Regions from separate parts of the Homo sapiens genome. Here region 2 is linked to region 1. The links come from fine-mapping of genetic effects on gene expression. A gene starts in region 1. The other region holds a variant in brackets. All regions are shown on one strand. Distances are from middle to middle.

Evidence for each region. PIP is the estimated chance that this variant, and not a neighbour inherited with it, causes the effect. A credible set is the group of variants that fine-mapping cannot tell apart.
Region 2: its variant is the best candidate, but not a certain one, in a credible set for the expression of INSC in whole blood (INTERVAL, PIP 0.74).

What each region holds. Positions count from the first base shown.
Region 1 is chr11:15,112,583-15,116,971 of GRCh38, reverse strand. It overlaps INSC (INSC spindle orientation adaptor protein), which reads right to left and starts at 2,049. Exons shown (of 13, transcript NM_001042536.3): 1 at 1,969-2,049. RefSeq lists enhancers at 2,342-2,875, 3,527-3,576.
Region 2 is chr11:15,167,438-15,171,826 of GRCh38, reverse strand. All of the region lies in intron 2 of INSC (INSC spindle orientation adaptor protein), which reads right to left. Among named protein-coding and RNA genes, the nearest start is that of INSC, 55 kb to the right of the region's middle. The variant C/A (reference allele first, on the strand shown) is at 2,551.

The DNA.
Region 1 (4,389 bases):
GACTCCATCAAAGAAGGAAGGAAAGAAGGAAGGAAGGAAGGAAGGAAGGAGGGAGGGAGGGAGGGAGGGAGGGAGGGAGGGAGGGAGGGAGGGGGAGAGAGAGAGAGAGAGAGAGAGAGAGAGAAAGAAAGAAAGAAAGAAAGAAAGAAAGAAAGAAAGAAAGAAAAGAAAGAAAAGAAAAGAAAGGAAGGAAGAAAAAAAGAAAGAATGGAAGGAAGGAAGGAAGGAAAAGAGAGAAAGAGAAGGAAGGAAGAAAGGAAGGGAAGGAAGGAAGCTCAATACCATCTTTCTAACTTCCCAGCTGAAAGAGCACATTTAGTCTGGGTACCTCACTGAAGTATTCAGAAGAGAATAGCCAGGATGGGACAGGTCTAGAAGCTCTACTAAGAAGAATAACACCACCACTCAGCTGGTATTTTAGGGCACCTACTCTTCCAAGCGCTGTATAGTGTGTGCCCAGTGGTCACCAGGGGGAGGAGGTCATGGAGAAGATTCTGTCCAGAAAAAAAGATAACCACTGGAAGAAAGGAAAGGAGCAGAGCAAATGCCATCCCTCCACCAGCCTGTGGGAGGGAGACTCAAAGTAGGGTTGAACGAAACCAAAGAAGAGAAAGAATCAACCCAGCTCAATTCACTGTCCTCCCTGCCAAATGGTTGCCTTGGGACCCAACCCAGAAAGGTCACTGCTTCTCTGCAGCAAGTGTAATCCAGAGTATAAACTACAGCATGGAGCAAATTATATATGCTGAGCTCCATGTCAGATCCCAGCCTGACCTGGCTTGCCTTCCAAAGGCAGTGTTTGGAAGTTTTCACTTCTAAAAGGGCGAACAGTGCTTCTAAGTCCCAGAGCTAAAGGGACAAGATGCTCTCTGGCTGAGCTCCATGGACAGCCTCAGTTTCAGATTCAATGGAACCCCTCAAAGGCACCACATCACCATCTGCCCTGACCCCCACAGCCAAAGTCCCTGACTTAAAATATTCCCCACTGAGGCCAGTTTCTTGGACCCATTGTCAGAGGTATAATATATAGATTAAAAGGGGCAAAAGTGGGAGGAGGCTAGCGGCTGAGGGTGGGGCCACACCAGGGATACATTTGCGCATATGCATTGAACAAAGTGGGTGCATGTTGCATACATGTCGTTGTCCACAGGTATACATGTTGAAAGTGTGAATGGTTGCATGGCTATCCTGAGAAGAGTGTGTGCAAGACTGGTGCACATGGACAGGAATGTGTGTATGCTGAGCATGTAAGCGTGGGTGCACTGCGAGTGTTTGTGGGTGGCCATGGCCATATGGTCCACTCATCCCCTGGCCTCCTGTCTCTTCTCCTGGTTTAAGAGTGGGGTCTCCCAAGCTGTCTCCCTGACCCTGGTCTAGCCAGATGGGGTTAGTCAGAGCCACATTCACTCCAGTGTTGTGTGAGGGCTCTGAGCTTCTGTCCTTCTCCAAGCCCTGAGAAACCAAAGCTGAATGACCCACAGAGAAGACACCCCAGCTGGGACAAGTCAGGTCACCTTAGAAAGCCTGAGTTCAGATAACACTCCCTAGCCCCAATTTCTGCCTTCCTGGGTTCACACTGGCACATCCACTCATCCACATGTGGACTGGCTCAGCCCACCTGGGGGCCTTCCTGCCACACACACAGGCATTTCCACAGGTACAGACACAGTGCACCCAGGGCAGCAGGTGCCACACAGGCAAATACCTGTGGCCCACTCCAGGCCACCACACACTCTGACACACTCGTTCACCCACACTCGCACCCTGGGGCACATGCTAGAAAATTCCACATGTGGACATCCCATCCAGACACACTCCCTCACACTGGCGCAAGCTCCCCTTCACAAGCACTCCCACTGACACACTTACACCTACTATCCAATTAGTGACAAACCTGCACTGTTCCCAACTAGGCTAGCAGAGGCATCACCAGCCCCCTGAATCCAGCTAGGGGAGCTGTCTACTTACTTAGCGTGCGAGACAGGCTGGTAGTGCGAGCGGCCAGTGGTGGCGGGGCGCAGCTGGAGCTCCAGAGGCCGCGCGCAAAGTGGCCGCTCTGCCGGCCCAGCCCGAGAGGCCGCCCCTGGCCCCCGCCCCACCCCCCGCCCCGTTCTCCCCCGCCCGCCCTCTCCGAGGCGGTCGCAGCCTCCCAAGGACCTTCCACAGCAGCGCGCTCCCTGCCAAGCCTTGGTCCCGCGTCAGCCACGGCTGCCTGCTGTCTCCGCGGGACTACGAGGCTATTTCGGTGCCCCTGGGGGGGGAAACATGGCCCTCCCTCCCATCTGCAGGAGCGCTGGAATGGGGACGCGGTCAGGCCTAATTAGAGACCGGGCTCCCCCGGGCCAGGCGGCAGGCACCAGGGTGATCGCCCGGGAGCCGCGAAGCCGTCCAGGCGGGGTCGCCCACAAGGTGCCCCGCATGCCAACATCTGGAGAGGGGAAGGGAATGTGCCGCGATCGTTTCCCTTGGAGCTGAAACAAAACAAGGAGGGATTTGGGTGCAGTTCACTTGCTAGGAAGGAGGAAGCCACCCAGCTTTGATAGACCCCAAACGCCTAGAATGAGACGGTTTATTCACCGCAGGTGCTTCCCTCTGGAACCTTGCTCACACACACCTAAGTCACCCTCCACATCTTGGACCTGCCAAAAATGACGAGGGGTTGTTGCAGAAACTCCTTCTAACTTCGGCACATAAGATCAGACCCCACCCCCCACCCCCCACCCCCGTCCTGGACTCTGTCAAATAGCTAAATCTAGAGGAACTTGATTCCTACCCAAAAGCTCGGGAATGTGGCATTTTTGACCTGGAAGAAAGCTTCCAGATCATTTCATACAACTCCCCCTCCCCCGCCTCCGCCATCTTGCTATGAGGCTCCCAGAGCCCAGAGAATCTTGACCTATTCTTGGAGGTCCTCAAGCAAAGGCAGCCCCTGGTCTCCCTTGAGCCCTGTTCCAAAGCTTGAACTCTCTTACTGACAGAAAGATCTCCTTGACATCTAACCTAAATCTCTCACATGCAAACTATGTCAATTTGCTCACAATATGTATTCAGGGAGAAGGAGCTCAACTCAGTCCCCATGACAAAACGACCACGCCGAGGTCCCACTGCAGCCTTCTCTTCCTTAATGCTAATAATCTCTATTTCTTTTTTCAGGCTCTGGCTGAAGCTAACTGCTGCTCCCTGGACTCGAACACACACAGTAGCTCTCTGATATTAACTCTCCTCCTCAGCTCTCTGGGGGCCCAGGGCTCAGAAGGTGGCCAAATCATTCCTCTCAGACAAGCCAGCTTCAACTCTACCCTCCAGTCATCCAGAACAGCCTGATTCTACTCCCCAAGTTCCCTGAGAGGGGCCTCAGTTCCTGTTTCAACAAGTGCTGTCTAGGGCTGGGGACAGGGCTTGGTGCCGCCTGGCTGGGCATTACCACTGAAACCACAGTCTTACAGACTGTTTGCAGAATCTTCTCTCTGAGTCTGTTTCCGGTAGGGCAGGTGGTATGATAAGAATAGTCTCAGCCGGGAGTGGTGGCTCACGCCTGTAATCCCAGCTCTTTGGGAGGCCAAGGTGGATAGATCACAAAGTCCGGAGATTAAGTCCATCCTGGCCGACATGGTGAAACCCCATCTCTACTAATAATACAAAAATTAACTGGGCGAGTTGTCATGTGCCTGTTACCCCAGCTACTCAGGAGGCTGAGGCAAGAGAATAGCTTGAACCAATGAGTCGGAGGTTGCAGTGAGCCAGTGAGCCAAGATTGTGCCACTGCACATCAGCCTGGCAACAGAGTGAGATTGCATCAAAAAAGAAAGAGAGAGAGAGAGAGACAGAAAGAAAGAAAGAAAGAAAGAAAGAGAGAGAGAGAAAAGAAAGAAAGAGGAAGGAAGGAAGAAAGGAAGGGAGGGAAGAGAGGGAAGGAAAGGAAGGGAAGGAAAGAAGTCTCCAATTCTTCCTCAAAGAAACCTGTTTTGCATCCTGCCTCTACTACTTTCTAGTGATGAGTCCTTGGACAAATCACTTAACCTCTCTGAGCATCAGTTTTCCCATATGTACATTGGGGAACATAAAAATCTCTGCCCAGCTCATGAGGTTGTTGAAAGTATGAAGTGAGGTCAAGGATGTAAAGCACCTGGAAAACTAAGATATTTTATTATATGCTAGAAATAGAATGAGGCTTAGATCATAAACAGATCGATGTTAGCAAAAAAGCCTCAAAGTTCTTTTATTTCCAGGCCCAAACTCTGTGTCTGGGTTTCAGGGTAAGAGAGGAACAGACTTGGTTTGTTAGATGTTCCCTGGAGGCACTTGGCATAAATGCCCCCCCCCCACTTCCCAATACACACACACACACACACACACACACACACACACACACACACACACTCACATCCA
Region 2 (4,389 bases), 55 kb before region 1:
ATGGGACATGTTAACAATGGCAACTTCAGTTGTTCCATGAGAACCTCCAGGATCACTTGGGGAGTGGGGAGACAAGTCCAAGAGTTAATTTCTATTGCTTGTAACCAAAAGAACATTTTCTAAGACACAAGTGCACAGATAACTAAACATAGTTGAGTTGGTGTTCTTCTTAGAGTAAGGATCTGCTGGGAATTCCAAGAAGAGAACTCCCCCTTTCCGTTGGAGATCAGGGGCAGGTGCCTGGAGGAGGTGGTCATATCCTGGGTAGGGTTTGGACTTGTCAAGACAGTGAGAGCATATTCCAGGGTGAGGCAGTCAAAGGGACAATAAGTAAGTCCCCTGTTCTAGAGTTGTACATTCTGGAAGAGAGGGAACCATGATAAGGAAAGCCAGAAAGGTACACCAAGGCCCTGATTGTGAGAAGCCTTCGGTGCCAGATTAGGGGCTGGCCATTCACATTGAGATCCCTGAGAAGATACTGGAGGGTGGGCAGGGCAGGGGAGGTAGGGATGGCTAGGACTGGAAAACAGCCAAATTACAGCACCTGGGACCACCACCTGGCTCAAAGGAAACCTGTGTGCTGGGACTGCTCCCCAAGGAAGAGCTCTGGCATCCTCTGAATGGAGGCACTCACACCCCTTACCTCTGGCCTGGAAAGGAAAGAACCAACCCAACCCCACAGCCATGGTAGAGGTAGGAAAGGAGAACAAGGCCCTGGGAGGCCTGCTCAGATCCACAACTCACATTTTTGTCAAGCCCTCCACCCCAATGCACACAGGAGGTATATACTTAGTTATTGTTTTTAAAGCTATGTAAGAATTAAAAAGAAAGTGAGATTTCAGAAGCTGTAATTAAACTCCTAATCGATTCAGCACTCTGCTAGTAGGAGAATTGGAGTGACAGAACTATTGATTTCTTCAAGCCCTGCGTGTTTGTGCCTACCAGTGTCTGTGTTTGTGGATATGAATCCATCTGGGTGCCTGTCTATATTATCTGGATGCCTGTATCTGTCTGTGTGTCTGTATATCCCTATTTGCGCAAATAGATGACTGTATATGTGTTTACAGGACTTACCTCATATAAACTGGATGATTAAAAACTGGAGGTGGAGGAGCTTGAGCATGGGTACACTTAGTGAATCATTTCCAAAGAAAAGAGTATAGAAAAGGGAGAAATAAAGAAACTTTACAGTGGAGAAACCTGGCAGTCGCTATTTTAACCAAGTGATCAAGTTTAACCTCACCAAGGATAAGGCATGTTGCTAGCATGTACCCCTGAAAGGATATGATAAGAAGTGCACTTCATCTTGTAGCATTCTTCCCCTAGGACACGTAGCCTCAGTCTCATGATGAGGGAAGCGTCAGACAAACCCAAACTGAGGGACATTCTACAAAACACCTGACCAATACTCTTCAAAGTGGTCAAGGTCATCATAAACAAAGGCAGACTGAAAAACTGTCATAGAACAGAGGTGACTAAGGAGACATGAGGACTAAGTGTAATATGATATCCTGGGTGGAATCCTGAAACAGAGAAAGGATATTCATGAAAAAAAAACTAGTGAAATCTGAATACAGTCAGCTTTCCATATCCACAGATTTTGCATATATGGATTCAACCAACTGCAGATTGAAATTATTCAAAAAAACAAAAAATAACAATATGATAATAAAAATGTCACACACAAAAAACACAGTATAACAACTATTTACATAGTATTTACATTGTATTAGGTATTATAAGTAATCTAGAGATGATTTAAAGTATACAAGAGGATAAGTGTAGCTTATATGCAAGTATTAAGCAATTTTATATCAGGGACTGGAGGATTCACACATTTTCGTAACTGTGGGAAGTCCTGGAACCAATCTCTCATGGATGCCAAGGGACAACTGCAATGTCTAGAGTTTAGTTCATAGTAATGGACCAATGCTGGTCCCTTAGTTGTGACAAATGTGCCATGGTAATATAAGACGTCAGCAATCAGGGAAACTGAGTGTGGAGTATATGGGAACACTCTGTACTACCTTTGTAACTTTCTGTAAATCTATAACTATTCGAGACCAGCCTAGCCAACATGGTGAAACCTGTCTCTACTAAAAGTACAAAAAAAAAAAATTAGCTGGGTGTGGTGACACACGCCTGTAATCCCAGCTACTCGGGAGGTTGAGGCAGGAGAATCACTTGAACCTGGGAGGCAGAGGTTGCAGTGAGCAGAGATCATACCACTACACTCCAGCCTGGGTGACAGAGTGAGACTCCATCTAAAAAAACAAACAAACAAACAAACAAACAACAACAACAACAAAAACTGTGAGCCCAGACTAGCTGTCTCTCTGGTTTTATATCATGAGCCTCATGCAGGGAACACCTTGAGAGTCCAAGCTCCAGGATGATAGGTGAAACCTGGCTAAAGAGCCAGGAACAGAGCCTTCCTCAAAGAACTGGGAAGTGGAAAGAAAAGCGGTCACCAGTCAGGCTATGGGTGGAAGTTGTTCTCTCAGGGGAAAGGAACATAGCTACTCCCAGTAGCTTTGTCTTCCAGTCGGG[C/A]CCTCATCATCTGTCCTACAGATGAATCCCAGGTGAGCCTCGTGGACCTGTGCCTTCAATGCCTAGCTACATCGGGAACCCTCCCTCTGAGGCCCCTCATGATGGCTCATAATGACCCTGCTCCTTCCTTAACCACCTTAACAGACAGGCCTTGAGCCACAGCTTCCTTGGGACTGAGTAGCCTATTGTCTACGAGTTTGAGCATAAGGGGGATGTATCCAGACACAAGCAAACAAGGCCTGCACACTGGCATAAGGGTAGGAAGAGCTAGCTCTGCTTCTCATAATCTGTGTGACCTTAGGCAAGCTGCTGCTTCTTTTTTCCATTTTCTGAAATTTTTATCGAAATATAACATATGTACATAGAAGTGAACACATCATAATATTGAGCTACAGTTCAATACATTTTCATAAGGTCAACACATCCATGAATTCAGCAACCAGATAAAGAAACCTAACTATTACCATTGTCCCAGAACTCTCCCTTGAGCCCCTTCTAGTCACTCCCCAACCAGGATAACCAGTATCCTGACTTTTAACAACATAAGTTTGTGTTTTGAGTAAACTTCTTACCAATTTGAGCCTCAATTTCTTCATCCACAAAATAGATAATAATAGAGGTTTCCACACAGGGTTGATGGAAGAATTAAATTAAGTGATGAATGTGTAGGGCCTAGCACACTGCATGGCACAAAAGGGGACACTCAAAAATGTTAGTTCTCTGTGCTGCTCTTCCCCATATAAAACACCTTCACACGTGTCACAATAACTAGAAATATAATAATGACTGGAATTTATTGAGCATATCCCATGCATTGAGCACCATGCTAAGATCATGTCCTTTGCAGGGACATGGATGGATATGGAAGCCATTATCTTCAGCAAACTAACACAGGAACAGAAAACCAAACACTGCATTTTCTCACTTATAAGTGGGAGCTGAACAATGAGAACACATGGACACAGAGAGGGAAACAATACACACTAGGGCCTGTCAGTGGGGTAGTGGGAGGGAGAGCATCAAGATAAATAGCTAATGCATGTGGGGCTTAACACATAGGTAATGTGTTGATAGTTGCAGCAAACCACCATGGCACACGTTTACCTATATAACAAACCTGCACATCCTGCATGTGTATCCCAGCACTTAAAATAAAATGAAATAAAATAATAAAGTAGATGAGCAGAGAGAGGGATGAGGCAGCCTTAACATAGGCAGATGGGGAGGACCATTTGCCCAAGCAACAACTTGGGGCTGCTATGGGCAAAGGAAGATGAAGGGAAACTGTGAGCCCCTGACCCTGCCTACAGCTCGGGAGAGGAGAGTGGGCAAGAATCATGAGCCGCCAAGATATAATTGCTGCTTTCAGGCCAAAGCCACACAGAGCTGTCCAGCTGCAGGAGTTGCCTTTCACGGTAACAGTCCTAGAAATGAGGACAGACAAGGTGCCAGTGGGGAAAAGCAGAATCTGGTTTACTTTAAGAATGAGCTTAAGCCAGGTGTGATGTCTCATGCCTGTAATCCCAACACTTTGGGAGGTGGAGGTGGGAGGATCCCTTGAAACTAGGAGTTTGAGACCAACCTGAGCAACATAGCGATACCCCCATCTCTACAATAATAATTATTATTATTAATAATAATTAGCTGAGCATGGTGGCTCTTCCCTGTGGTCCCAGCTACTCAGGATACTCAAGAGGCTGAGGCAGGAGGATCACTTGAGCCCAGGAGGTCAAGGCTGCAGTGAGCTATTATGGTGCCACTGCACTACAGTCTGGGTGACAAAGTGAGACCCTTTCTCTTAAAAGAAGAGTTTAAAATAACTGTTATTTATAGAGATTG